Regions from separate parts of the Homo sapiens genome. Here region 1 is linked to region 2. Evidence: fine-mapped expression QTL. A gene starts in region 2. The other region holds a variant in brackets. All regions are shown on one strand. Distances are between the middles of the regions. Region 1 has its middle 22 kb from the start of MIF-AS1. Region 2 holds the start of DDT (D-dopachrome tautomerase).

Region 1 (16,943 bases), 56 kb after region 2:
CAATCTGAGAGTCTGGAAGTCAAGTTGGATGTGAGAGCATCATGTTCCCCTATAGCATACAGCAGTCCGCTCCGGGTCGTTACTCCTATGCCACCTCTCCTTTTTGACATCCGTGCACACAGTGTCCATGTTGGGGTGATCAGGCCTAACACCAGGCCGTGGGGGCTACAAAGTCTGGCGGGGTCAGAGGAATGTGAAAAGATAAGTTAAAAGTGCATAAAGTGGGTCCGGGGGGCCGGCACTAGATTGAAGGCTGCAAAGGCCCCGAGCTCTGGGAGCCCACACTATTTATTGGTGATCAAACAAAGAAGCAGGTGGTGAGGATGTGAGGGTAAACAGGTGAGGGCATGAGAACGTGGGGATAGAAAGCTAGTGGTGCATTAAGCGTAGCTGTGACAGCTTAGCACTTCCTTTGATGCATGTAGAATATGCTCTGCTACTTGAGATAATGGAGGACATGTTTACGAGTAAGAAGCAAGGAACCAACAAGTCTGTGCACATTCCAGAGGCTATGAGGAGTTTTATGCCCTGAGCCCTGGGTTCCATCCAAGCCACACGGGGTTTTATGCCCTGGGCTTAGATTTGTGTTGCGGCAGGGCAGCCTTCCACCCTATGGCACAGAGCTTGGTGTACCAAAGGCCATGAGGGGTTTTAGGCCGTGGACCCCGGACATCTTTCAAGACTCTTTTACATTATGACAGACAAGCCAGTCCTGCCTCAGCTCTTCTACCAACAGTCCACTCACTAGTATGAGGATCAAAACATTCTACTGATTTGAGACAAGAACTTGCATCACCACCACCAACTGCATTAAGTTTTCCACTTAGCACTGCCACACCAACTGTGCTCCTAGGAGTAGACACAGTGGCAACAAAATTCCACTGGCGAGCCTGAGGGTCCCAAATTTCCGCTGTGTTCAGATGGCCCCAGCCCTCATGCCCTCCTACGGCATACATGGGACCTTCCAGTACAGCCACACCAAGGCCATGTCTATGTGTGGACATAGGTGGCACCACACTCCCTGTTTTTGTTTTGGGGTTGTAGCACTCTACAGTATTCAAAGTCTTCAGTCCATCTCTTCCTCCAACCACATACGGTTTGTCATCTAGCACTGCGACACCAAACTGTAGCCTCCTCTCATTCATATTTGCTACTGGAGTTCATGTATTTGTACAGAGGTCATACTTTTCAATGCTTGTTGCTCCTTTTGTTGAATCCATTCTCCCAACTGCAAATAATGTACCAACAGTTGATTTCCTAGATTTTGCCTGAGGACTTTGTAACGTGGGTCATCTCTCTGGTAATACATGGTACTTCATTGCTTCCATAATGAGTTTCTGACATTCTATATTATCCCAAAAAAGTACATTATTTTCCATGTCTGCCAGGAACTGTGGTGAAAGAAGAGGTAGCCTAATATTAGCCAAAAGTTTACTTAGATCTTTCCATCTCTGTTCCAAATCATGACAGACCCAAGTAAGAAGTGGAGTCAATATTGTCTCATCAGGAATGTTCATGTCATCACTAGTCAAGAACTTTGCAATTTTGCTGGCTGGTAATAATACAAATTCCTGGTTTCTGATTACTTTCATGAAATGCTCAATAGTATAATTGTGAGCCACTTTATGCAAATCTGTACAACCTTAGGCATCAGCAAAAGAACAAATTCCAAGACAGCTGGATGGGTGAAGCTGTTTCATTAAAAACTTATGACATGTGGCCTGGTGCCCTGGCTCACGTCTGTAATCCCAGCACTTTGGGAGGCCAGGGCAGGCGGATCACCTGAGGTCAGGAGTTCAAGACCAGCCTGGCTAACATGGTGAAACCCCGTCTCTACTAAAAATACAAAAAAGTACCTGGTCGTGGTGGCAGGCGCCTATAATCCCAGCTACTCGTGAGGCTGAAGTAGGAGAATTGCTTGAACCTGGGAGGCGGAGGTTGCAGTGAGCTGAGATCTACACTGGGCGGCAGAGCGAAACTCTGTCTCAAAACAAACAAACAAACAAAAATTTACAACATGCTTCTACAGCCTGTGAAAGCTGAAGAAGGCAAGCTGTAGATAGCAGGCACTCAGTATTATCTTCTTTTAATTCAAGGCGGGTTGTATAAGCATATTGGATCAAGGACCACGATGAATTTGGTTCTACACCTTCCATTTTTATGTCTTCTTGTCTTGCTTCTCTGACATCATTAGTAAACATGGCAGCAAAATAGTCTGAGCCAGAGGAGAGCACCAATCTGTGAGCTGGAATTCTGCCATCACCAGCAACTAAAATTACATCGCACAACTGTTTATGTCTCAAACAGTTTTCCATTTTTTTAAATGTTTGTTCGGCATAATTCAGGGCTTGGAAAAATTCATGATGAACATGGCTCCATAATATGACAGGATGATAACGTCTGACTACTACTGGAAGTCCGCGTCGGGCTCCGGAGGGAGTCACAGCAGGCCAGGGTGGAGGAGTGGGGGAGGCGAGGGCAGAGAGGGATGCTCGTGTGCCCCCAACCCCTTCCTGGCAGCCTCATCTACGGCGTTGGTGGCCCCAAGCTAGACAATCTTGCTCCATCAGGTGGCACCAGGCGGTGGGGGGTGGGTGGTCAGAGTCCTCAGGTAGCCCCAGAGGGGTGGGTGAGTGGATGGGGGTCCAGACTGGCTCGCCTATCAGTCCCCGCACTGCGCAATCGGCTGCCCACCCAGCCCACACAATGATAAGTATTTTTGTATGTAAACATATCTAAACATAGAAAAGCTACAGTAAAAATATGGTATTATAATCTTTTTTTTCTTTCTTTCTTTTTTTTTTTTTTTTTTTTGAGACAGGATCTCACTCTGTTGCCCTGGCTGGAGTGCAGTAGCATGATCATGGCTCACCGCAGTCTCGACTTTCCTGGGCTCAGGTGAGTCTCCCACCTCAGCCTTCTAAGTAGCTGGGACTACAGGTGCGCATCACCATGACTGGTTTATTTTGTATTTTTTGTAGAGACAGGATTTCACCATGTTGCCCAGACTGGTCTCAAACTCCTGGGCTCAATGATCTACCCGCCTCTGCCTACCAAAGTGCTAGGATGACAGGTGCGGTGGCTCACCGGCATTATAATCTGATGGGGACACCATTGTATATTCGGTCCATCGTTGACCAAAACATTGGTGACAGTGCATGCTTTCTTCTAAAAGCCTTGATTTACACCTAATCTCCTGGTCAAAAAGGATGGCAAGGCTTGTTAGTTGGCAGAAGCTATGCCCTTTTTACCTGTTGATGATTTATATGCTCCAAGATTACTAGTTAGTTCCTTTATGTAGCTGTCATAGCATCACATTGTTCACTTAAGAAGTCCCCATAATCCAGGGATCACTCAATGCAGGAATGAAAGGTTTAGAGATGCCAATAGGCAAAGGGAAACCAAGCACTATTTCAAAAGAAGTTAATCCACGCCTCCCATTTGGAGCATTCTAAACTTCATAAGGGGTAAAAGGCAACAAGAGGTAATGTTTTTCCTCCCTTCAATTCAGTTTCCTGACAGATTTTTCCTAACGTCTTTTTTTCTTTTTCTTTTTTTTGAGATAGAGTCTCACACTGTCGCCCAGGCTGGAGTGCAGTGGCACAATCCTGGCTCACTGCAACCTCTGCCTCCCAGGTTCAAGTGATTCTCCTGCCTCAGCCTCCCAAGTAGCTGGGATTACAGGGGTGTGCCACCACCCCCAACTAATTTTTGTATTTTTAGTAGAGACAGGGTTTCACCATGTTGGCCAGGCTGGTCTTGAATTCCTGACCTCAAGTGATCTGCCCACCTGGGCCTCCCACAGTGCTGGGATTACAGGTGTGAGCCCCGCACCCAGCCTGTTGAATATAAAAATGCTCCAGGAATAAATGCTTGGTGCCACAAAGTGAAACCAGCACTCAGGCAAAAGTTTTCACAGCAAGGCAATTTACTTCTGCAGAAGGGTGCCACTCCCGTCAATCAAGATCGCAAGAGCACACCAAACAAAGGGGAGCAGGGGGTTTTTATCTCTGATGCATAGTCCTTACCTCTGTGTCACTCCCCCATGGGCTGGGGTTGGACTGCACAATCTGAGCTGATCCAATTAGCTACTTGCAAATATTGTTCTAAATATGGAAGGGAAAGTGTACGTGAGGTACAGTGGTGAAGCATGTAAGACATGCAGTTTTGGGGGAACAACGCGTACAGATAACCAAGGGAAAGGATGTGAGTTATTGATTAGAGCTGGTGGGAAGGGGGTAAGCTGTTTTACAGTAACTAGGGGCAAGGAGGAACAGGAAAGTTAAGTTTGAGAACAAAGGACAAGGAAGTTAGCAGGCTAAATCTTTGAAGAGAAACTCAGAGAAATTCATTGTATCTTACACAGCCTAATGTCCTTTTTATGTCTAAATTTTTACATTTCACTTGAGCTGAGGATTGGGGGTGGTATGGGGTGTGAAATTTTAACGAGTACCCCAAAGGAGTTTTTTTTTTTTGCAATCGAATTGTTTATTTCTGCTGTAAAATGAGTTCCTTGGTCTGACTTAATCTGTAACAGAAAGCCAAAATGAGAAATAATCTCAGTTATTAATTTCTTTTTTTTTTTCCAACATGGTCTCTCACTGTTGCCCAGGCTGGAGTGCAGTGGTGCGATCTCGGCTCTTTGCAACCTCCACCTCCCACGTTCAAGCAATTCTCCTTGCCTCAGCCTCAAGTAGCTGGGATTACAGGAGCCCACCACCACGCCCAGCTAATTTTTTTGTATTTTTAGTAGAGACACAGTTTCACTATGTTGGCCAGGCTAGTTTCAAAATCCTGACCTCATGATCTGCCCACCTCTGCCTTCCAAAGTGCTGGGATTACAGGTGTGAGCCTCCCTGGCCAGCCGAGTTATTAATTTCTTCACCAGTGTTGTGGTATCAGCACATCCAGTCCGGTGGCATTCAATCCATCCACTAAACATTCAGACAGTAACCAAACAGTGGGAATGCCCTAAAGCCAGAAGTAAATCAACAAAATCCATCTGGAGTCCTGCAAGGGGCAGTGTGGGCCTTGGAGGACTCCCCGAGGAATGTTGGTTTCCTCCAGAGATTCCATGAGATTTATAAGTTGTGCACTGGGAAACAGTGTGGCCAGAAGTTTTGTGGATGCCAGGGTAGAACTAATTATATTTTAGTTCCTTTGCTATCCTCCATCTCCATATGTCCCATTTGATAAGTGCAAGCCAAAAGGTCAAAAGAAAGGAAGCCACGGGAAGTCTATTTGGTCCAATGTATCATCTGTCTGGTAATTATTTGCTGTCCTTTTGAATTCATTTGTCTTTTTCAGATTGTGGGGCATTTGCCTGGTAATACTAACAATAATCAATAATATCAGTCAGGGATAAAGACACAGATAAATTGCATGGAAAAAGGATGGTGGGGGGATCCATTTCTGGCTGTGTATTTCGCTGCCTTGTTGGCCCTATCATTCTCTAGAGATACAGCATCAGGGCCAGGTGTGGTGGCTCACGCCTGTAATCTCAGCATTTTGGGAGGCTGAGGTGGGCAGATCACAGGATCAGGAAATCAAGATCATCCTGGCAAACATGGTGAAACCCGTCTCTACTAAAAATACAAAAATTAGCCGAGTGTGGTGGCATGTGCCTGTAATCCCAGCTACTCGGGAGGCTGAGGCAGGAGAATCGCTTGAACCCAGGAGGTGGAGGTTGCAGTGAGCCAAGATCGTGCCACTGCACTCCAGCCTGGGCAACAGAGCGAGACTCCATCTCAAAAAAAAAGAAAAAAAAGATATAGCATCAGTCTCCTTAGTATGGGCTAAACAATGAGCAACAGCAATTTTTCTTGGGAGGTGAATAGCCTGTAGTAGGGCAAGAATTATATGCCCATTGGTAACAGGAGTACCAGTAGCGTTTAAGAATTCTCAGGATTGGTCATGAATGGTGGCTCATGCCTGTAATCCCAGTACATTGGGAGGCTGAGGCAGGAGGATTGCTCTAGGCCAGAAGTTCAAGACCAGCCTGGGCAACATACTGAGACCCCCATCTCTCCAAAAAAAGAATTCTCAGGATTTCCAGATTGCACCAATGGTCAGCAGACTCCAACTGGAGTTGGTATAAATAGTGGCAGTTTTCCCTTCTGCCAATGCGCAAGCTCTAATAAGAGCTATAAATTCCCCAGCCTGGGGTTTACTCTACTGTGGGCAAACAGGACCTCAAGTGTTTCCTGTGGGGAAACTATGACATAGCAGTTATTGTGTTCCCCCAGAAACCTCGTTTATGGGAGCCATCACAAAATAGGAGTGAGTCTGTGTTGTCTAAAGGGTGCACAACAGGTCTCATGACCTTGAGACCATTTCTATCATTGGAAGGCAATCATGTGGAATGGAGTAGGGTTCTCCATCATCAGGGAGGGCTAATAGAGTAGCCAGATTGTTTTTGTTTTTGTTTTTGTTTTGAGACAGTCTCACTCTGTTGCCCAGACTGGAGTACAATGATGCAATCTCAGCTCACTGCAACCTCTGCCTCTGGGCTCAAGCAATCCTCCCACCTCTGCCTCCTAAGTAGCTGGGACCACAGGCATGTGTCGCCATGCCCAGCTAATTTTTGTATTTTGTGTAGAGACAGGGTTTTGCCATGTTGCCCAGGCTGGTCTCGAACTCCTGGGCTCAAGTGATCCACCCGCCTCAGCCTCCCAAAGTGCTGAGATTACAGGTATGAGCCACCATGCCTAGCCGAGTAGCCAGATTTACAGTGGCACAATGATGTAAGATAATGGAGGGTTTGGTTAATAGGACCTGTTCATAGGTCTATTGCCATGTGGAGAGGTACTATGTCTTATGAACTTGGAAGATGGACAGCATGGGGAACATAACAGAAAATGGATAAGCCTAACATGAGTGCTGGCTTTGTCAGTTACAGAGTCAGCTGCAGCCATCACATGCAGGCATGAGGGCAGGCCTGCTGCCACAGGATTCAATTGGCATGAGAAATATAGGATATATCTGAGAGGCAAAAGGTTGCATAGAATACCTCCAGCAATTCCATTATTTTCATGGTAATAGAAGTGAAAAGATTAGTCAAAATTCAGTAAGCCAACATCAGAGGTATGGGAAATGCTAATTTTAAGGCTACAAAGGAGGTTAGTGCCTCTCAGGGCCAGAAAATGGGTGCTGGGATGGTGTCTTCAAGGAGGGCATACAGAGGTTTGGCAAGGGCAGCAAAATTAGAAATCCATTGGTGACAATAGCCAGCTGTCACTGGAAATTTTTGTAGTTTTTGTTTGTTTGTTTTTTGAGACGGAGTCTCGTTCTGTCGCCAGGCTGGAGTGCAGTGGTGCAATCTCAGCTCACTGCAAACTCCGCTTCCTGGGTTCAAACGATCCTCCTTCCTCAGCCGCCCGAGTAGCTGAGACTACAGGTGCCCGCCACCACGCCCAGCTAATTTTTTGTATTTTTAGTAGAGAGAGGGTTTCACCATGTTGGCCAGGATGGTCTGGATCTCTTGACCTTGTGATCCGCTGCCTCGGCCTCCCAAAGTGTTGGGATTACAGGCATGAGCCACTGCATCTGGCTTATTTGTTTGTTTTTGAGACAAGGTCTTGCTTTGTCACCAGGCTGGAATGCAGTGGTGCAATCATGGCTCATTGCAGCCTCAACCTCCAGGGCTCAAGCAATCCTCCCACCTTGGCCTTCCAAAGTGCTGGAACTACAGGCATGAAACCACTGCGCCCAGCCGTATAAAGTTGTTTTTTTTTTTGTTTTGGGGAGAGAGATAAACAAAATTGACTTAAGACATTTGGGGGTGAGCTTCTGAATGCCCTGAGATAGCTCATGTCCCAAGTAGGTAATAGTTGTTTGTACCCACTGAGTTTAGATTAGAAGGCTTCATGGCCTTCTTCAGCCAGCACCTTTAGGAGAAGGAGGAAGTCTGTAAGAGCATCCTGCTTAGTATATTTTCTTTTATTTTTCTTTCTTTCTTTTTTTTTTTTTTGAGACAGAGTCACACTCTATCACCCAGGCTGGAGTGCAGTGGCATGATCTTGGCTCAGTGCAACCTCTGCCTTTCAGGTTCAAGCGATTCTCCTGCCTCAGCCTCCTGAGTAGCTGGGACTACAGGGATGTGCCACCATACCCAGCTACTTTTTGTATTTTTAGTAGAGATGGGGTTTTGCCATGTTGGTCAGGCTGGTCTCGAACTCCTGACCTCAGGTGATCTGCCCGCCTCGGCCTCCCAAAGTGCTGGGATTACAGGCATGAGCCACTACGCCTGGCCTGCTTAGTATATTTTCTTTTTCTTTTTCTTTCTTTTTTTTTTTTTTTTTTTTGAGACAGAGTCT[C/T]GCTCTATCCAGGCTGGAATGCAGTGGTGCGATCTCAGCTCACTGCAAGCTCCGCTTCCCGGGTTCACGCCATTCTCCTGCCTCAGCCTCCCGAGTAGCTGGGACTATAAGCGCCCGCCACCACACCCAGCTAATTTTTTGTATTTTTAGTAGAGATGGGGTTTCACCGTGTTAGCCAGGATGGTCTCGATCTCCTGACCTCAGGTGATCCACCCGCCTCGGCCTCCCAAAGTGCTGGGATTACAGGCGTGAGCCACCACACCTAGCCTGCTTAGTATATTTTCAAAGTAAAAGATCAACATATTGGCAAGAGTGGAACCTTGGGTCAAGGCTACAGAATCTAAGTCAGCTTTAAGAACTTAGGAAAATATTGAGGGAGACTCACAATGTCTCTGAGATGTGTGAGTCCATGTTAACTGTCTCCCTCTCAGTGTAGTTGTATAACCATACCAGATCAATCTGGTTCAACTTTTATGTAACAAAGTTGTGAGCTGCATACCTGGTTCATCTGGGCACAGTCAGGGTAAGTGACCTTCAACCTGAGGATCCACAGCAACTGAAAAAAAACTCACAACTTTGACTTTGTTACATAAAAGTTGAGCCACAGTGGGCACCGTGGCTCACACCTATAATCCCAGCACTTTGGGAGGCTGAGATGGGAGGATTGCTTGAGCCCAGGAGTTCAAGACCAGCCTGGGCAACATGGCAAAAGCCTATTTCTACAAAAAAATTTTAAAAATTAGCTAGTCATGGTGACACACACATGTAGTCCCAGCTACTTGGGAGGTTAAGGTGGGAGGATCACTTCAGCCTGGAAGGTCAAGGCTGCAGTGAGCTGTGATCACACCATTGTACTCCAGCCTGGTTGACAGAGCAAGACCCCATCACACACACGCGCACACACACACACACACACACACAGAAAAGCTGAGCCAGATTCGGTTGGACACAGTTACAAATCCCCCTTGAAACACCCCACCCCTCATTCTTGAGCGGTTAGGGATGAAGGTCATTCTTCTCTGTCTACTTCATGCTGACAGGGAACAGTGAGGCTACTAAAGTTAGAGGAGTGAAATTCTCAGGCTCCTGAGTTCAAATAAGTTTTTTAGTCATCTGAAGTTGCTCAAAGGAGCTGGTATTGCTGCTGTTACACAAAATGAGGACACAAACTGTACTATCAATTTAAAATACAGGGACCGAAAAGTAACAGAACAGAGGCCACTAGAGGCCACAGCAGAGGAAGAAACGAGGTGAAGTGAGGTACAGCAGACTTCACTGCATTCCAAGATAGCTCGTTGGTTGAGCTACCCTTCTGGTTGAAGGAATGCAGCTGTTCTACTTGTTTAAATATTTCCTTTCTTTTTTTTCTTTCTTTCTTTTTTTTGAGATGAGTCACGCTCTGTCGCCCAGGCTGGAGTGCAGTGGCGGGATCTCGGCTCACTGCAAGCTCCGCCTCCCGGGTTCACACCATTCTCCTGCCTCAGCCTCCCTAGTAGCTGGGACCACAGGCGCCCGCCACCACGCCCGGCTAACTTTTTGTGTTTTTAGTAGAGACGGAGTTTCACTGTGTTAGCCAGGATGGTCTCGATCTCCTGACCTCGTGATCCACCCGCCTCAGCCTCCCAAAGTGCTGGGCTTACAGGCTTGAGCCACCGCACCCGGCCCCTTTCTCTCTTTTTTTTTTTTTTTTTTTTGAGACAGAGTCTCGCTCTGTCACCCAGGCTAGAGTATAGTGGCACGATCTTGGCTCACTGCAACCTCTGTCTCTTGGGTTCAAGCGATCTCCTGTCTCAGCCTCCTGAGTAGCTGGGACTACAGGCGTGCACCACCATGCCCAGCTAATTTTTTTGTATTTTTAGTAGAGACCAGGTTTCACTATGTTGGCCAGGCTGGTCTTGAACTCCTGACCTCAAGTGATCCACCCACCTTGGCCTCCCAAAGTGTTGAATATTTCTTTTACATTAGCCTCTATTTCCTCTGGAGGCATTTACCCAAGTGCAACAGGAGGTATTGGTGCCACACACAGCCCTCCCGTTCTGCTAGTAAATAGTCTAAGGCCAATCGCTTTTCTGACACTACATTGGCTAGTGAATTTAGAGAAATACATATATTTTAGAGAGCCTCTCCAGTTTTAGCTGCCAGAGCCTTGGGTATTCAGATTAAATTTCTTAGGGTGACTTCATAACAGGCAACCCCCCCGCAAGAAAGGGCAGCCAACCCCACAGCAAGTCCGGCAGCTTCCATGGTTTGTCCAATAGCCCCCGTCCTTTTTTTTTTTTTTTTTTGGTCTCTTATGATGGCTGGTTGCACTATGGGCTGTTACCCTGATAGGCCCCAGAAGCCCACAGTACACTGTCCTAGGCATATTACATTGCCGAAACAAGGGTGAGCCACTGCAAATACTCTTTTGTAGCATGTTTGCCTCTTTTCTCCTTTTCCTGAGCAATTTAAATAAACTTGGCCTATTCTCTTAGTGACATTGCCCTTAGCAGGTGAGGTCCACACAACCCTGTGATGTTAATGACTCCTCTCAAAGGATTAGCAACAGGTCACCCCATCCAAGTGTGGGGAAGCCTATGGCACATCCAACATTTGAACAGATTGTTCCCACCAGCTGTGATACAGGAGACCTTGATTATTATATTGGCCTCCCAGAGATCACTGGCCAAGGCAACTAAAAGGGCCAAAAAGCAGGCTGGGTGCGATGGCTCACGCCTGTAATCCTAGCACTTTGGGAGGCTGAGGTGGGCGGATCAAAAGGTCAGGAGTTCGAGACCAGCCTGGCCAGCACGGTGAAACCCCGTCTCTACTAAAAATAAAAAAATTAGCTGGGCATGGTGGCGCACATCTGTAGACCCAGCTACTTGGGAGACTGAGGCAGGAGAATCACTTGAACCTGGGAGGCAGAGGTTGTAGTGAGCCGAGATTGCGCCACTGCACTCCAGCCTGGGCGACAAGAGTGAGACTCAATCTCAAAAAAAAAAAAAAAAAAAAAAAGGCCAAAAAGCATAGGGGCCATTTTTAGGTGTTTTATGAAGGGATTTGCCACCACCTAAGCATCTCCACAGTGTAAAAGGGCAACAGCATGAGGGTTCCTGCAGGGATAAAGAAGATGCCTACTATGGCAAGAGAATGGCAAGGGGCACACTTGACTTATCTGAGCCTTTTCTTCTAAAAACCAATTTGAGGTCTGAGATGGGTTCACAAATGTATGCTGGGGAGGCATCTTCTGGGGGCTCCTGGGCTTTCACTCTTTTTTTTTTTTTTTTTGAGACAGAGTCTCTCTATGTCACTCAGGCTGGAGTGCAGGGGTTCAATCATAGCTCACTGCAGCCTCAAACGCCTAAGCTCATGGGATCTTCCCGCCCCAGCCTCCGTGCACCACCAATTAGCGGTGCCTGGCTAATTCTTTTACTTTTTGTAGAGACAAGGTCTCACCATGTTGCCCAGGCTGGTCTTAAATTCCTGGCCTCAAGTGATCCTCCCCCATCTGCCTCCCAAAGTGCTGGGATTACAGGCGTGAGCCACCATGCCTGGCCTCTTCACTCTTGAGTGATGGATCCAAGGGGTTACTTCTTGGAGTTTAAGAGAAGAATGAGTGGTTAAAAGTGTTAGGTTGGGCCCCATCCATAGCGGGCTGAGCTGGTCCTGGGAGTACTCAGCCTTCTGGGTCCTGAGGTATACCCAGTCTCCTGGGTTGTACAGATGAAGTTTTACCCCAGAGGGGACCAGGAGGCTGGGGTTGCTGAGGTGGTTGAGAATAGCAACAAATGACTCCAGATGAATAACATAATATGCTTCATCACCCTTTCTATCTCCTCATCTGGGCAAGAGAAGGGGCTGGCCACGCCTGGATAAGGCCTTACATATTAACATTTCTTTTTTTTTTTGGAGACTGGGTCTGTTGTCCAGGCTGGAGTGCAGTGGCGTCATCACAGCTCACTGCAGCCTTGACCTCCCTGAATTCAAGCAGTGTTCCTCCTTCAGCCTCTCAAGTAGCTGAGATTACAGGTGCGCACCACCACGCCTGGTTTTTATTATTATTTTTTAAATAGGGAGGAAGTCTCACTATGTTGCTCAGGCTGGTCTCGAACTCCTGGGCTTAAGTGATCCTCTTCACGGGTGGGCCTCTCAAAGTGCTGGGAATACAGGTGTGAGTCACCACGCCCGGCCCCATATAATCTTACCTTCCCTCCCCTCGCCTTCCCTCCCCTCCCCTTCCCTTCCCTTTCCTTTCTTTCTTTTTTCCTTTTTTGAGACAGAGTCTTGTTCTGTTGCCCAGGCTGGTCTCGATCTCCTGGGCTTAAGTGATCCTCTTCACCAGTGGGCCTCTCAAAGTGCTGGGAATACAGGTGTGAGTCACCATACCCGGCCCCATATAATATTTCTTTCTCTTTTTTTTTTTTGAGACAGAGTCTTGCTCTGTCGCCCAGGCTGGAGTGCAGTGGCGTGATCTCGGCTCACTGCAACCCCTGCCTCCCAGGTTCAAGCGATTCTCATGCTTTAGCCTGCTGAGTAGCTGGGATTACAGGCACATGCTGCCACACCCGGCTAATTTTTTGTATTTTTAGTAGACATGGTGTTTCACCATGTGGCCAGGCTGGTCTCAAACTCCTGACCTCAAGTGATCCACCTGCCTCAGCCACCCAAAGTGCTGGGATTACAGGCATGAGCCACTGTGCCCAGCCCCATATAGCATTTCAAAGGAGCTAAGTCTCATTCTTTCTCTGAGTGCTACCCATACTTGGACCAAGGCTATGGGTAACAGCTTTAACCAATTATCTTGGGCCTCCTGGCATAACTTGGCTAGGATACCTTTGAGAGTTCTATGGGACCTTTCAGTCTTTCCCAAGGAGTTTGGTCTCCAGGCTACATGCCACTTCCACTGTATGACCAAGGCCTGGGAAGTTTTTACTACTATGTTAGAAATGAATGCGGGTCCATTAGCACTCTGGACTGACTTAGGGAGACTGAATGGAGGGATAAATTCCTTTAGTAAAGACTTCATGGCTTCTGCCTTTTCAGTCCAGCATGGAAAAGCCTCTATCCAACCAGCAAAGGCATCAGAAAAGCACCAGGAGATATTTAAATCCTCTAGAAGACATAGGCATAACACTGGAGTCAATTTGCTAGTCCTCCCCTCACATGGTTCCCCTGAATTGTACCACCTTGGCCAAGGGAGATATGGGAGGTCTGTTTTGAGCATTGTTTCTCTGACAATAGACACATTGGTCAGCCACTTTATCCATCATTTTCTTTGCTTTTGGGGTCCTTATTATCCTGAGGAGCTAGGTGTGCATAGTCTTCTTGCCATAGATTGAGAGATCATGGGCAGGCTTTATAATAGCCCAACTCAGATTTCTGGGCACCCAAATCCTGCCTCTCTTATTTAGGGCCCATCCCTCTGAGAGGGAACTCTGATGCTCTCCCTCTCGCATGGCTTCCTGTAATTCCCCAGGGGAGTGTCTTGGTTTATTGGTTTATATTCATAAAGAGGTACTGAAGGAAGCAGGGACTTTCCCTCCCTGTGTGTGCCAGGTTGCTCCCCTTCATTAGTTCAAAGTCCCCCATTAGATGACCCCCACAATCTGTCTAGTCATTTCCACTGTGCAGTAGTGCCAATATTTATGTTTCATATTTGATTTATTTGTTATTGGCATTCAGAAGTCCCCTTTCGTACCCGATTGCACCATGGGCATGGATCACAGTGAGCACATATCTCAAGTCTGTATAAACAGTCAAGGCCTTGTCCTTTCTTCATGCCAGGGCTCTGGTTAAGGCTATTATCTGAGTCTTTGGGGCTGAAGTTTGGGCAGGGAAGCTTTTGGCCTCTATGGTTTTCCATAGGGAGAGAACCACATATCCTGCCCTTCTTTCGCTCTTCCGTGAAGCTATGGCCATCTACAAACCCTATGTCTTCCTTTCCTTTTTCAACCACATCTCTGCTACAGAGAACCTTGAAGGTCATTTCTACTAAATGCAAGCGGTTAATATTAGGAACTGAGACTTGTGTTTTTCCCAGGCATGTCCTCAAACTTTGGCTAAATTAACCTTTATTGATTGAGACACCTGTCTCAGTCATTTTTTGGTTAACACAATACAGATAAAGTAGGATCCCTATCTCATATTACACATAAACATTAATACAGATGGACCAAAGACCTAAATATGGGGGATGGATCAGTAGAAAATACGGGAGAATATCTCTATGACCTTGGGACAAGGGCTGAGTTTTTAAGCAAAACACAAAATGCTCAAATCATAGAGGAAAAGATTGATAGTCGCCTGTGTTACAATTTTAGATTTGTGCTTCAAAAAGACACCCTAGGAATTAGGGGTGGAAAGGAAGCAAGCCACAGAGTGGGAGCAAATATTTGCAATTAATGCGCTGAACTAGTAAAAGACTGGTATCCATAAAATTATAAAGAACTACCAATCAATAAAAACCACAACCCAATAGAAAAATGGGCATAAAATACAAACAGGCAATTCTCAGAACATGAAAACAGAGTAGTCAATAATTACATAAAGAGAAGTTCAAACTTACTCAAAGTAGGGAAATGAAAATCAAAGTTATAATGAATATTACATTCCACACCCATCAGGTTGGCACGCTCAAACTGTATGTTTAAGATGCTATATTTAATGTTATTACAATCAAACTATGTTCAAGTTTTTTAATATGCTATTACAATCATTATAACAGCAAAAAATTGGCAACACTCCAAACGCCCATTACAAGAGGATGGAACAGGATATAGAGTGGATATTAGCGAATTAGGCCCATACATCTGCGTGGGAGCATCTCAGAGAACGCAGGGGCGAAACGCCGGAAGGGCACACAAACCAAGCCCCGCCCCCGGGAACCCCGCTCCCACACGGAGCATGCTGGAGGCTGATAGGTTGGTTTGACCACGCCAGTTCCGCCTTCGCCTGCCCCCTTAGAGCCCCGCCCCCGCGCGGAGCATGCTGGGGACATACGGACTCACTTTCCTCGCCAACCCCGCCCTCCGGAGCTACCAGCAACAACCAACGGGCAGCGAGCAACGGGCGCGCGCTGCTCCCTTAGGAGGCGGTGACCATCTGCCCGTGTGCCCAGGGCCTCTGAGGGCGCTGGATGGCTCCGTTGTGTCCGGGTGGTCTCGGGAGCTGCAGGGAAGGGGCGGGAAAACTACACCGGACCCCATGGGGAGCGCAGAGGCGGAAAGGGAAGGGCCTAGGGACCTCAGATTGTTTTGAATCAAGGGCAGAAAGATCGGGTCGGAGGGAGGGAAGGAAATACTTCCGTGCCTTCAGAGGGAGTCTAGAGTCCCAGGCCGTGCCGGGTGGAAGGAACTGTGCAGCGTCCCAGAGGGAAGGAAGAAGAAGGGAAGAGAAGTGGACTCAGAAAAAGTGGAGGGGAAAGAAGGGAGATGGGAGAAATGGAGGGCAGAAGAGGCAACGTTCCCCAGCCCTATAAACCATAATGAGCCCATATGAGAAAGCAGAAAGGTGGGTGGGAAGTGGGGGGCTAGAAAGGAAAAGAAACAAAAGCTGTCTTGGTCTGAGTCAGGAGCCCAGCTGTTGTGACAGGAAGGGACCTCAGAGATGGCTTTCACAGGTGGCTGTGACTATAGCTCTTTCTGGTGCCTCAAGCTCCCTCTTAACCCCTGGGAGACTTTTACCTTTGGGAGAGATTTCCCTTTGGGTTAAGGAGGGGAAAGAGGGACAGAGGGACAGTGGCAAGGGATGCCAGGAGAAGGTGAGGGAGAGGACACATGAGTGTTAGGTTTTTGAAAAAAGACGAGGGTTAAAGACAAGAGAGTTGACCACTCTACAACACAGGTTTATTAACACAACCTACAGAGGTGGGGACCAACTTAATGCCAAAGCCCCACTAGCACTTACAGGCTGGAATCATTATAGGCCTGGATGAGGGGTCTGGAATGGTAGGACTTACTGCCCAAGAGGATGTTAATAAAAATATTTCTTAAACCTTTGTCCCAACAAGATGTGATAAAGAAGTCAGACAGTTGGGGAGGATGTTACTTACAGCCCAAACCCCTGCAGAATGTTTCACTGTGACCAGGGTCTATGAAATGGCAGGAAGATTTACAAAATAATACAGCTTGGACTAAAAATTAGGGCCCAGCCTGGGGAGAGCTAGGCACTGATTTTTAGAGAAGTCTATGTCTTTGGCTATGCCAGAAGCACTGCAATCTTATTTCAAGGGCTTCTGGATGTGGTGGACTAAGTCTAAGACTAGGGGGTCCAGAGAAGACCCCATCCTTAGTAACCCTTGTCAATAGGGAGACTTCTCACGGAATCTGCTCTTTGGGTTTGACCCTCTGTCTTCATGTTCATGCCTCATTCATCTTTGTTAGGTTTTGAAGGGAAGGTGAGGGTTAAAGAGTTGGCAGCTTAACAGCAACACAGGTTTATTGCCAGCACAAACCTGTGGAGGGGGGACCAGCTTAGTCTCAGAGCACGAGTCCCACTTACAGACTGGGACATTTACTATAAGGAAGAGGAAAGCAACACGAAGGGTGGCTGGGCAGTCAACAAGGACAGGTTTATTTTAGAAAATAAACTTGAGAGGGGCTTCTGGCCGAGTTAGCTCAGACTAACTTCTGTTACAGACTAAGGATA
Region 2 (12,428 bases):
TTACAGCTCAGGTAAATCAGGATGGCCGAGCTGGGAACAAATGGGCAGTGGCTATAAGGACACTGGCACCAGGCATTTACCCCTAACTGCTCCCATCTGCCAGTGGGGCCCGGGGGCTTCTCTGCATTTGAAGGACTGCCCTCCAGCCTCGCCCTCCATCTCCAGCTCCCCAACACCACCCCCTCCTCCTACGAGTCTCCTCCTGTCTTTGTTGCCTTGGGCACCGACTCTTGGCTGGACCTTCTGCTTTGCATTTTGAGAACCTCATCTCTGTGATATGCCAGCAGCCGCCCTGTGAGGTAGACACTCCTGTTAGCCTTTTAGCACAAGAGAAAACTCAAGGTCAGAATGGTCAAGTGACTTGTCCGAGGCGGTGCAGCTCAGAATAGGCTCCCTGGACCCCTGGAACCCTGCATGGGGCTGGCACACAGTGGATGCTCCGTGGAGTCCCTTGCATGTCCACGCGCTTGGGTCAGGGATCACGAGGGGAGGAATGTCTTTGGCCCCCGTCTGACAGGCCCCCAGCCATCACCTCTGCAGCCACCTGACCTCTTGTCCTTTTCCTGCCCAGCAGCTGGACCTCACCATGAGCTGTGCCCTTGGGCCATGGCATTGGCCTCTAGGCCCGGCCTGGGTAGATTGGGTAGTCTGCGACAAGTCACTAGAGGCTCTTTTCAGCTAGCATTTGTTGAACAAATGCGCAACAGTGGAAAAATGTTCCCTTGTCTTCTCTTCTAATACCCTTCAGTCTGGGAGTGGAGAGGCCCTGCGGCTCAGAAAAGGCTGAAGATGAGAGGTGGGGGGACATGTTCTGTCAGCCCCTGCTCATCCCGGACACACCCCAAGCTGTACCTTCTCCCCAGATACCTCTCCTTTCTTTCTTTCCTTTTTTTTTGAGACGGAGTCTCCCTCTGTCGCCCAGGCTGGAGTGGGCTCCCTCTGTCACCCAGGCTGGAGTGCAGTGGCGCGACCTCTGCTCATTGCAAGCTCCGCCTCCTGAGTTCACGCCATTCTCCTGCCTCAGCCTCCCCAGTAGCTGGGACTACAGGCGGCCGCCACCACGCCCTGCTAATGTTTTGTATTTTTAGTAGAGACAGGGTTTCACCGTGTTAGCCAGGATGGTCTCGATCTCCTGACCTCGTGATCCGCCCACCTCGGCCTCCCAAAGTGCTGGGATTACAGGCGTAAACCACCGCGCCCGGCCTTTTTGAGACGGAGTCTAGCTCTGTCGCCCAGGCTGGAGTGCAGTGGCGCGATCTCAGCACACTGCAAGCTCCGCCTCCTGGGTTCACACCATTCTCCTGCCTCAGCCTCCAGAGTAGCTGGGACTACAGACGCCCGCCACCACGCCCGGTTAATTTTTTTTTCCATTTTTAGTAGAGACGGTGTTTCACGGTGTTAGCCAGGATGGTCTCGGTCTCCTGACCTCGTGATCCGCCCGCCTTGGCCTCCCGAAGTGCCGGGATGACAGGCGTGAGCCACCGCGCCCGGCCAGATCCCTCGCCTTTCCCCTCCCTCGCTGCCCCATGGGGTATGGGAGGGCCATTGGGGCCCGGGGCCAGTGGGGAGAGCCAAGGTCACATGGGCTCCGGATGCGGTGAGGGGTGAGGGAAGGAGGGCATCTTTCGGTCAAGATGAAATCACCATCCTTGAGCGTCGGCAGTTTCCCCAGGCTGTTGATCTGCAAGAACTCCTTGCTCTTGTGCTGCCCTGAAGAAGAAGAAGTCAGAAAAGGTCTTCAGAGTAAAAACGCTGCACCTCTACACCCTCCCTCCTCCTCCCCAAGCGGAGCCCCACAGCCCTGAGAAACAGCAAGGTCTGGGACTAGAGGCCTGGATCAGCCTCACTCCCTGGCTGGGCCTCCCTGCCCTGCCACATTCCGGGGCAGCTGGGGGGTTTTGGTGGGTGGGGCCAGGTGCAGCAGGTGGATAAAGAGAAGTTTTCTAGCCGGACTCTGGTGGGCCAGGGGAGGGGAGGCAAACTGGGGTGGCTCATCTCTTCCCATCTCTTAATTCTCACAACAGTATGTCCTTCTTCCCGAGGTCTTCTGGGCTTTGTGAATTTATATGCGTGCATTCCACGCAAGAACTCTGTCAACTCCATTCAGTATTTTCTTTCCATCCCTACAGAGCAGAAGGTAACATTATCCTCCTTTTCAGAAGGCAAGCTAAGGTTCAGAGAGGCTGTGATCCCTTCAAGGCCACTCAGTCCACAGCATTCTCTGGTGGCAGACGCTGCAGGAGGAGGTGAGGGGGCTGTGCGGGCGGCGAGACGCTCAGGGCAGAGCAGGGCGGGGGCCTGGGGGTGCACTGGGTTTGTGGACACGCGGGGAAACGGGCTGGGCCCACCTTTGACCAAATCCACGGTGCGCAGCTCTAAGGGGATGCCATTCTTCTTGGCGAAGATGTAGACGGCGCGGCTGGGCTGGGACACCAGGTCAAGAAACAGCTCTAGGCCCATGGCGGGGGCGGCAAGGACAGCGGGGATGGCAGTGAAGGCGCTGAGCGCGGTGTGGGCAGCAGCTGTGGCAGGATCCCGGCGCGCCGGGAAATAGGGGATCAGGCCCCACCCCCTGGGGACAGCACCCAATTGGAGCGCACCACCCCCGGACCCGCCTCGCCCCTTCGGTTCCTGTCCAGTCCTGCCGGCCAAGACTCCACCACCAGATCCGTGCGTCCCTACAGGGAGGGCGGTCGCTATGAACGCACAGCTGGGAGGGTGGAGTTGGAGCTGGGGACCCTCGACTGGCAGGGAGGACGCGGATGCAGGGGGCCGACTGCAAGGGGAAGGGGAACCGGCTGGACAGGGAGAAGCAGGTCTGCTTTTCGGGATCCCGGTGCCAGGGACCCTGCCCAGTTCCAGGCGTCGCCCTGACCCAGAAACGACTGGGCGCCGCCGTCCTGGAAAGGCCCCAGCGCACGGACATCTGAGGGTTCGTTCAGAGCTCTGTTTCTCGGCGCTGCATGGTGGCGGAAGGGAGGGAGCGAATGGGATCCCCTAAAAGGGATCTTAGAGTTTCACCCAGTGGGATGTGACACTTGCAGGTGTCCCAAACTGGTGGGAACCTTGACTGGAAGGCTGGGGTTAAGGATGAACTTTCTGCCGTCCAGACTGTCCCCTGCAGAGCAGCTGCTGCCAGACAGCGGGAGCTGCCAGACAGCGGGAGCTCCCACTTCGTGCACAGGATGGGGGCAGGGAGCCCGCAGCCGCGGGAGGCAGGAATGACTGTCCGGGAACCTCCTTTCTTCTCCCTGAATCCCAGCCCTGGCATCTCACCAGGGGGCACAGTGATGGTCCAGGGCTGGGCCCGGGACTCTAGCTGAATCTTTCAGAGTATCCCATCCCTCTGGCCAGTGGCCCAAGCGAGTGAACCAGAATGCTTCCTTGGGAGTTTTGAAACTGGAACTGGAGAGAGGAGCTCCCTATGGGGAGGTAAACGGGAGCTGGGGCCACCTGTAGTGACATTTCCTGAGTTCGAGGAGTAGACGAGACTGAGAGAGAAAAGCTGACTCAGAGAAAGGGAGTGATAACAGGGCATGCTGGCCCACACCTGCAATCCCAGTTACTCTCACGGGATCTGTTTCTCTGATGTCTGGGTATGAAAGGACTTTCTAAGCCTCAGAACAGTGGGAGAACTCAACAAAGAAAAAACCAATACATATACAAGGTTACTTTGTGGAGGAAAAAATGGATTAACCTTAAGCAAAAAACTGGGAAGGATCTCGGTAAAAGATACGTCAGAAGGAAGTAATGTCCTTTAAGATGTTCTTAGAAACCCATCAGACAGGTAGGGTGTGGTGGTTCACGCCTGTAATCCCTGTACTTTGGGAGGCAGAGATGGGCGGATCAGTTGAGGTCAGGAGTTTGAGACCAGCCTGGGCAACACGGTGAAGCCCCGTCTCTACTAAAAATACAAAAATTAGCTGGGTGCGGTGGCACACTCGGGAGGCTGAGACAGGAGAATCACTTGAACCTTGGAGGCAGAGGTTTCAGTGAGCTGAGATCATACCACTGCACTCCAGCCGGGCCACTGAGCGAGACTGTCTCAAAACAAACAAACGAACAAACAAAAAGAAGAGAAACTCATCAGACGAAGACACAGGAAAAAAATGAGCGAAGGAAATCAGCAGAGGTTTCATTGAAGGACAAAGAGAAATGGTCAATACATGGATGAAAACATGTTTAACTTCAGTAATAATCAAGGAAGCACACACCAACACAACATGCACATACTGTTTTTATTTATCAAAGGCACACATATTTTTGAAATGAGTACTCCTAATTAATATGTACAGAGCACTTACCCAGTGCCCAGCACAGGGGTGGCACCCTGTGTGTGAGACAGCATGAAACAGGTAGACACGCGCCCTGCTGAAAGTAAGGGACCGCCTCTCTGGAGGATCCATCGGGCAATAAGGAGGTTTCCACACCTTAACTGTGTCTGCCTTGACCTCTGGGGCCTGGGAGCAGAGCCCCCTCCAGCTGGTGGGGAAGGAAGCGTGGTGTGTTTGAGGACAGAATGGAGAGAAGTTGAGTAGAGCAAGTGTAGACTCTTCCTATCCAAAGTGTGGTCAATGGACTGGGAGTATCAGCATCACCAGGGAGCTTGTTGGAAATGCAGAGGCTCAGGCCCCACTCTGACCTTACTGATTGGGAGCATAAACTGTAACCAGATTCCAGGGAGGATTCATACACACATTCCCGTTTGATAAGTGGGGGGTAGTAGGAGGTGAGGTGAAAAGTGGGGAGGGGATGGCTACCGCACTGGAGAAGGCTGGCTTTGTGTTGAGGCCTTTCTCATGAGGGCAGTGGGGAGCCATGGAAGGCTTTATGCAAGAGAGGGTACGGGCAGATTGAGATTACAGAAGGATCCCACTGGTTGCCTTGTGTGAGGACCCAGGGAGAAGGGGGAGGCTGTCCCTGTTTGAGTAGGAGATGAGAGCTACTGGTGGCTATGAGTGGAAAGAAGTGAGCAGAGGTGAGCAGAAATCCCAAGGACTGGTGATGATAGGATGATGGTGGGAACCAGGATGGGCTTTGGGCAGACCCTGACCCCTCTCTCTGCCTGTCGGCCCACCAGATAATAATCCCTGTGTTCCTGGGCGAGTCAGTGCCACCCGAGATGTTGGCGGCCACTTTGGCTGAGCTGGACGGATGCCTGCAGCTGCTCGAGGACAAGTTCCTGCGGGACCAGGCCTTCCTTACTGGGCCCCGTATCTCTGTGGCTGGCTTGGTGGCAATCACGGAGCTGAGGCATGAGAGTGCCATGGGGTGCGGTGGCCCGCTGGGCAGTGGTGTATCCGGGAAGGGAGCTGACATCCCAGCTCATGTTGTCTTTTCTGGCTGTGGGACCCTGTGTGAGTCACTTCTCCTTCTGAGCCTCAGTGTCCTCATCTATAAAATGGGGCTTTACAAACCCCTCACCGCAGCTATATTAAGAGGCTTCCAAGTGTCCCCAGGGAGGGGGACATCCTAGCCCATCACACACATGGTGGAGGAGGGAAAATCCAATCAGAGAACCCCTAAAGCAGGTCATGCTGCCTTACACTTGGCTATGCCCAGCCCCTCCGCTGACTCTGTCTTCCCCTAGCCCATCAGTGCTGGCTGCTGAGTCTTTGAAAGCAGACCCACGGTGGCAGCATGGTGCCCAACACGTGGAGGCTGCAGTGCGGGAGGACTTCTTCCAGGAGGCCCTCCCAGCTGTCCTGAAGGCCAAGGACCTGCCTCCAGTAGAACCTGCTGTTAAAGAGAATCTGAAGACCTTAATGCAGCTTTTCTTGCTGTGAGTGCGTGTCCCACACTTGCTGAGCCACTGAGGGGATGCTGTGTTGGTAGAATAAAGACATGGAGCTGTCCGTCTCCTTGGTTGAAGAGAAGACATATCTGCAAAGGCTCTGGTCCACAGTTCCTCCAGATATCATGCCTGCATTCCTTTTGTCTCCTACCCCATTCCATTCTAGCTTCCATGTGACCTCTGAAAAGAGCTTGGGCAAACGCTTACTTGACCCTGACCTTCTGTGTGGAACTTTGTATGGTTCCTCACTGCCCAGAAGCTAAAGTACAAGTCATTGAACTTTGCATTCAAGGCCTTGCTCCCACTCCTCCAGGTGGCCCCTTCTGCCTGCACACTCCTAACCCCTCTCTGGGCTCCCACCTTGGCCTCTTGGCCTCCGCTCATGCTGTTCCCTCCTCATCTTCGCCTGGTGCCCTTCCTGGTCTTTTGGCATTTGGCACCCTGTCTCTTCTCCAGGGAGACTTCCCTGACCTCCCCAGCCCCAGTCCAGGTCAGGCGACCTCTCTGGGCTCCTCAGCCCCAGTGTTTCCTTGCGGGGGATACCCCCGGACTGAGCATGTATCATCGATGAGGGGTGACCTGGTGGAAAGATGTCTGAATCAGGATCAGCCTTGGTCTCCTCGGTCTCTCTCCTCACTGTGGGGCGATGTTGTGTTCCACAAGTGGGGTGCAGGGCTGGTTCATGAACCTCCTTGCAGGAAGGGAAGTCCCTGGTTATTTCCTGGCCCTCTCCCATGCCTCCTCATAACCTTGACCACAGTCTTCTCTACACCCCACTCCCGGACCACTGGCTTGTCCATGCCCCACACCTGGTCCCAGACTTGCCACCTGTCCCTGCCCTCTCCCCTTAGGACTGTCATATTTACCTGTCGTGTGTCTCAGACCTTCTGATATCTGAGTCATCTAATAAACAAACTGCTAATAGGACAAGATCATGACAGACAGAGACTCTGTCGGCCTTTCAGTGGAGGCTCCTTTAAGTATGCACACTTATAGAGAATTTTATACACGTAGTTGAAATTGTACATATAAACTTGCAAATTTTTTCTTTCTTTTTTGTGGGGGAGGGGGGAGCCTGGGTCTCACTCTGTCATCTAGGGTGGAGTGCAGTGGCACAGTCATAGCTCCCTGCAGCCTAGATCTCCTGCGCTCAAGCAATCCTCCTGCCTCAGCCGCCCAGGTAGCTAGGACTACAGGCACACACCACAGCACCCAGATTTCTTCTTTTTTTTTTTTTTTTTGTAGAAAATAAAGAAGAGAATCTTGCTATGTTGCCTAGCCTGATCTTTAACTCCTGGGCTCAAGCAATCCTCCCTTCTTAGCCTCCCAAAGTGCTGAGATTACAGGTGTGAGCCACATTGCTCGACCACAACTTCAGTCATATTTGTAATGTACAATTCAAGTGATTTTGCCACACTGACCACACTCATGTTTAAGCCACGCCAACAGAGTTCCATGTTTTCTGATGTTTTTTCGAGATGGAGTCTCGCTCTGTCACCCAGGCTGGAGTGCAATGGCGCGATCTCGGCTCACTGCAACCTCCACCTCCCCGGTTCAAGCGATTCTCCTGCCTCAGCCTCCCGAGCAGCTGGGATTACAACGTCTGCCACCACGCCCGGCTAATTTTTGTATCTTTAGTAGAGACGGGGTTTCGTCATGTTGGCCAGGCTGGTCTCAAACTCCTGACCTCAGGTGATCCGCCCGCCTGGACCTCGCAAAGTGCTGGGATTACAGGCGTGAGCTACCGTGCCCGGCCTTTCCATGTTTTAAAGAACATATTTTGCCACCCCCTGGTGGACAGTGGCTCACCACCGGCACAAGAGGCTACACAGGCAGATGTCAATGGGGACCAGGCAGGGACAGGTATTGTCGTGAGCCTAGCCCTACCCGCGCCCCCGCGAGTAACCACATCTCCTGACTGCCCAAGCGCAGATTTCCATACTGAACATGAAATTGCCTGACTTCGAAATGGTGGCAAATCATTCAAAAAAACTTTAAGCTCCCGTTGTATTGGTTATTAGGGTCGAGCCTGGGGAAGACCCCTATAGGTGTGTGTGTGTCCTTGTGTGTCGGGGGTGTGGTGTTCAGACCTCTAATAGGGCTAGGAACCGGGCGACCACAGCGCGGAAGCTTGAGAGGGAAACCCACCTGGCGCCAGGCAGGAGGGTCGGGGGAGACAGGGTGGGTCCACTACCGGGTTAAAGACCTGTAGTGGGTGGGGCTACACGTAGGGCGGAGACGATGGGACTTCCGGAAATCAGCCGGCACACGTGACTTTTGTTTGCAGAAGCGGGAGGTACCCTAGGCAGCCAATCGGGGAGCGCCGAGTCTCTGTCCAGCCAATGAGAAGCCAGGTTGCTGTGGCGCCTCGCCCCTCCTCCCTGGTCCGCGAGCCTTGGGTACCCCCAGCTTTTCTTCCGCCAGAGCTGTTTCCGTTCCTCTGCCCGCCATGCCGTTCCTGGAGCTGGACACGAATTTGCCCGCCAACCGAGTGCCCGCGGGGCTGGAGAAACGACTCTGCGCCGCCGCTGCCTCCATCCTGGGCAAACCTGCGGACGTAAGCGTGGGCCGGGCAGCACGGGGCGAGGGGAGGTTGGTGGGCCAGGGGTCCGGCCCTGTCCCTGCTCCGCCTCCCCGACAGTGACCCCGAATCTTTTCCCCAGGGACCACTCCCCACTCCTTTCCTCACGCCAAGCTCTGACTTTCCGTGCTCCACGATCCCGCGGCTCCCCCTCCGCACGTCTTTCCCTTGTCGCCCTCCCCAGTCATGACCCGGGCGTGACCTTCAGGGACCGCGGCCCGTATCGGGATCCCTGCCCCGCGAACACTGCGCGTTTCGGCTTTCGCGCGCTCGGGTCCCGTCCCCAGAGGTAGCCCGGCCGGCTCCAACTTCGGGCAAAACTTTTCATGTCCCCCTCAGCGCGTGAACGTGACGGTACGGCCGGGCCTGGCCATGGCGCTGAGCGGGTCCACCGAGCCCTGCGCGCAGCTGTCCATCTCCTCCATCGGCGTAGTGGGCACCGCCGAGGACAACCGCAGCCACAGCGCCCACTTCTTTGAGTTTCTCACCAAGGAGCTAGCCCTGGGCCAGGACCGGTGCGTAGGGGTAGTAGGGGATCCATGTGGGACTGCCGCAGACTGGAGCCACTGATCCTGCCTCAGGGGGAAAAACCCATTTCTTGCCCTGCCCAGTAAGGACACATCAGGGTCTGGAGCTTTGGGGCCCCCTGACCCCTTAGGTTCCTGCTGTTAGGACCATCTTCAAAGTGCGAGCAGGATTGAATGAATTTCTGGCTCTGCTCCTCAGTGTGTAAGTCTGTGAACCGGGAAGGCTCTCTTTTAACACCCCCGGGGCAGTGCAAGGGTCATGTGGGATTGTCTGTGTGCTGTACCTGCCTTGGCACCTGACAGGGTAGGTACACGTGGCTGAAGTGTGATTTTCTAGAACTTTTCCAGGCTGGTCAGAAGGAATTCTGGGTATGTTCTGAAGTTACGTATTTTGGACCTGTGTCCCAGCCAGGTTCCAGGTGAAGTTCACGGGAGACTCACAGAGTAGTGAAAGACCATTGGCCTGGATGTCTAGACATCTGCTTTCTGGGTCCTGCATAGCTGGGGGACCCCAGACAAACTTGGAAATGAACCATCTCCAGTTGGCAACCTCCTCTTCTGTGAATACAGGGGAAAAGACCTCCCTCCCCCACAAGAAGCGTCTGCAACCCAAACCTGGCGTTCTGTGACCGAGTTAAAGTTTCCTCTTGGGTAAAAGATATTCTTGAGCCACATCCATGTCTAGGAGGAAGTAAGGGCATGAGAAGCTTGAAAGGACACTGTCCAGGCACGGTGGCTCATGCCTGTAATCCCAGCACTTTGGGAGACCAAGGCGGGAGGTTCATTTGACCCAGGAGTTGTAGACCAGTCTGGGTAACATAGTGAGATGCCATCCCCCAAAACAGTTTTAAAAATTAACCGGACATGGTGGTGTGCACATGTAGTCTCACTTAGTTGGCAGGCTGAAGTGGGAGGATGGTTTCAGCCCAGGAGGTTGAGGCTGCAGTGAGCTATGATTGCGCATTGCACTCCATCCTGTGTGACAGTGAGACCTTGGCTCACAAAAAAAGACCTTCTGAAATGGAGCCTTTGTTAGTCCATGAAGGTCGATGAGGAATGGCTGATCCTGCTGGGTCCTCCCTCAAGCTACAGAGGAATAATACAGTCAGCCCCCTGTATCACTGGGTTACGCATCTGTTGATTCAAACAACCATGGATTGAAATATTAGAGGAAAAAAAATTGATAATTGCATCTATACTGAAAATACGTATAGACTTTATTCCTTGTCATTATTCCCTAAACAATACAACTATTTACATAGTACGTACATTATATTAGGTATTATAAGTAACCCAGAGATTATTTAAAGTATATGAGAGGATGTGTGTAGGTTACATGCAAATATTACACCATTTTATGTAAGGGACTTGAGCAAATGTAGATTCTGGTTTCCTCTGGGGATTCTAGAACAAATCTCCCACGGATACTCAGGGAAAACTGTTACTCTAACAACAAGTGTTATACACTTACCATGTGCTAGGTCCTCTACAGGTACTTTACACTCATGATCCCATTTGATCCTTACAATCCCTATCCACTCTCCCTTTGCTCAGACAAGACATGCTATCCCCATGAGGTAGATAATCTCCATTATGCCAATTTTATGATGAGAAGACAGGCTGTTCATACTCCCGCCCGCCCCAACCAGGCTGTCCCAAGTTCTGGTTTTCCTCACTGGAAACTTGCTGTTACCTCTGAGAGGGGCATGTTCACTTATGGCCCAGACATTAGTGGCGGGGTTGGTGGGGTGGGGGGTCACCCTGTGCTCAGCCTTTGAGAAAACAGGTGGCTGAGGTACTGTGCCCTTAGGGAGCCTGCAATTAGGAGGCAGGGTACCCCTCAGTACACAAACTGATGGAGATGATAGAGTGTACGGCACACACACCGAGGCTACTGTATTGTGTGTCTGTCCTAGCTGGGTCATGATGTGCGGCTACCTCCCACACCTGAGTGTCCCACTGCCCTGCTGGGGGTTGGGGAAAATCATTATTGGGATGAGCAGGTTTGCAAAATGCCTGGTGGACTGAGGCAGGCTGTCCTGAGTACCCACAGTGGGAGTACCTGGCAGGGGTCTTGCAAGATGTGGTATTAGCCAAGGAGCTGATGATATCTTTTTCTCTGTCTCCTGAAGGATACTTATCCGCTTTTTCCCCTTGGAGTCCTGGCAGATTGGCAAGATAGGGACGGTCATGACTTTTTTATGATTGGGCACGGAGGGATCCAGGGCATCTGTGAACTGGCTGCTTCTTCCAGAGAGATCTCTTGGCAGAGTGAGGGCCTGGAGATAACCAGCTTTGGATTATCCCGCATGCAACATTCCTGTGATCACATAATCCTCTTCTTCATCCTCATATGAAATAAATGAAGAGAGCTTCCTCATTCAAACATGACTTCTTACCTTCTATTATCTCTCCTGGGCATCTGGGGCCACCATGGGCAGCAGGGCTGGTGGATAAGACCGTAGGGAACCTGGAGGGGGATGATTTAGACTGCTCAGATCTGGGGCTGGGAGACTCAGCCTGGAGGCTCTGCTCTCCACACCCATCTGCAGGCCTGTGGGAAGGTGTGAGCAGCTGGTCCAGCTGGGGCCTTCCTGCAGACTGCTGACCTGAGGCTCCTGTCCTCAGCCCCAAAATGGGACCAGACCTCTGTACTCCTCCTGAAGTCTACTCCCTCCATGACTGGCTGGGCAGCCTGCCACGCCACTCTCCCCTTTTCCCCACTGTAGAGTGGAGGCAGGGGTTGCCTGTGTCCCTTTGGGGGTTGGTCGCTGGTTTTCCAGAAGCAGGGTCCCCAGTCTGCCCCTCCTCCTCCCCAGGGTTGCAAGCTTCGACTCCCTCCCTTTGGCAAGACTCAAACCGTCCTCCCAGCTGCCCCATCACCCCTTCCTGGCAGTAGCACCACTTTTCATAACCTTTCCAGCCCAGGGGTCCCCAGGCTGGGAGGACAGCTGGGGGGATGAATGGCAGGTAAGGCTTCCTGTGTCTTCTCTCCTGTTGCAACTGTGCCACCTGCACACTTACACACTCATGGACACACCATGCACATACACACATCCACCCGCATCTAGTCACGATTCATCACATTCACACACATATACAATCATACCATTTACACACAGTTAACTCATGTACACACACATATACACCCAGTCACATAATTCACTCACATCCAACAAAGTCACACAACTCAAATTCACACATATAGACCAAATCCCCACACACGTACACACACACACACAATCACAGCATTCACTGACATTCATAGTCATCACACAGTTCACTCACACACACACATACTCCCCGTCACACACAGGCACACAATTCACACCAACAAAATCACAATTCACTTATCCACCCACATACTCAAATTCACACTGCTCACATTTACACACAATTCACTAAAATTCACGTATACACCCATGTACACAGTTCACTCACATCACACACATATACACCCACACATAAACACACAATTCACTCACACACAGTTCACTGACATTCGCACACATACACACGCACCACA

What was found. PIP is the estimated chance that this variant, and not a neighbour inherited with it, causes the effect.
Region 1: its variant is fine-mapped to the expression of DDT in monocytes (Fairfax 2014, PIP 0.95).

The regions. Positions count from the first base shown.
Region 1 is chr22:23,912,399-23,929,341 of GRCh38, reverse strand. It overlaps the pseudogene KLHL5P1. Among named protein-coding and RNA genes, the nearest start is that of MIF-AS1, 22 kb to the right of the region's middle. The variant C/T (reference allele first, on the strand shown) is at 8,316.
Region 2 is chr22:23,970,230-23,982,657 of GRCh38, reverse strand. DDT (D-dopachrome tautomerase) reads left to right here and starts at 8,217. Exons shown (of 3, transcript NM_001084392.3): 1 at 8,217-8,351; 2 at 8,715-8,890; 3 at 11,035-11,288. The coding sequence starts at 8,244. The coding sequence ends at 11,107. It overlaps DDTL (D-dopachrome tautomerase like), which reads right to left. Exons shown (of 3, transcript NM_001084393.2): 3 at 10,102-11,372. The coding sequence ends at 11,252. It also overlaps the pseudogene GSTT2.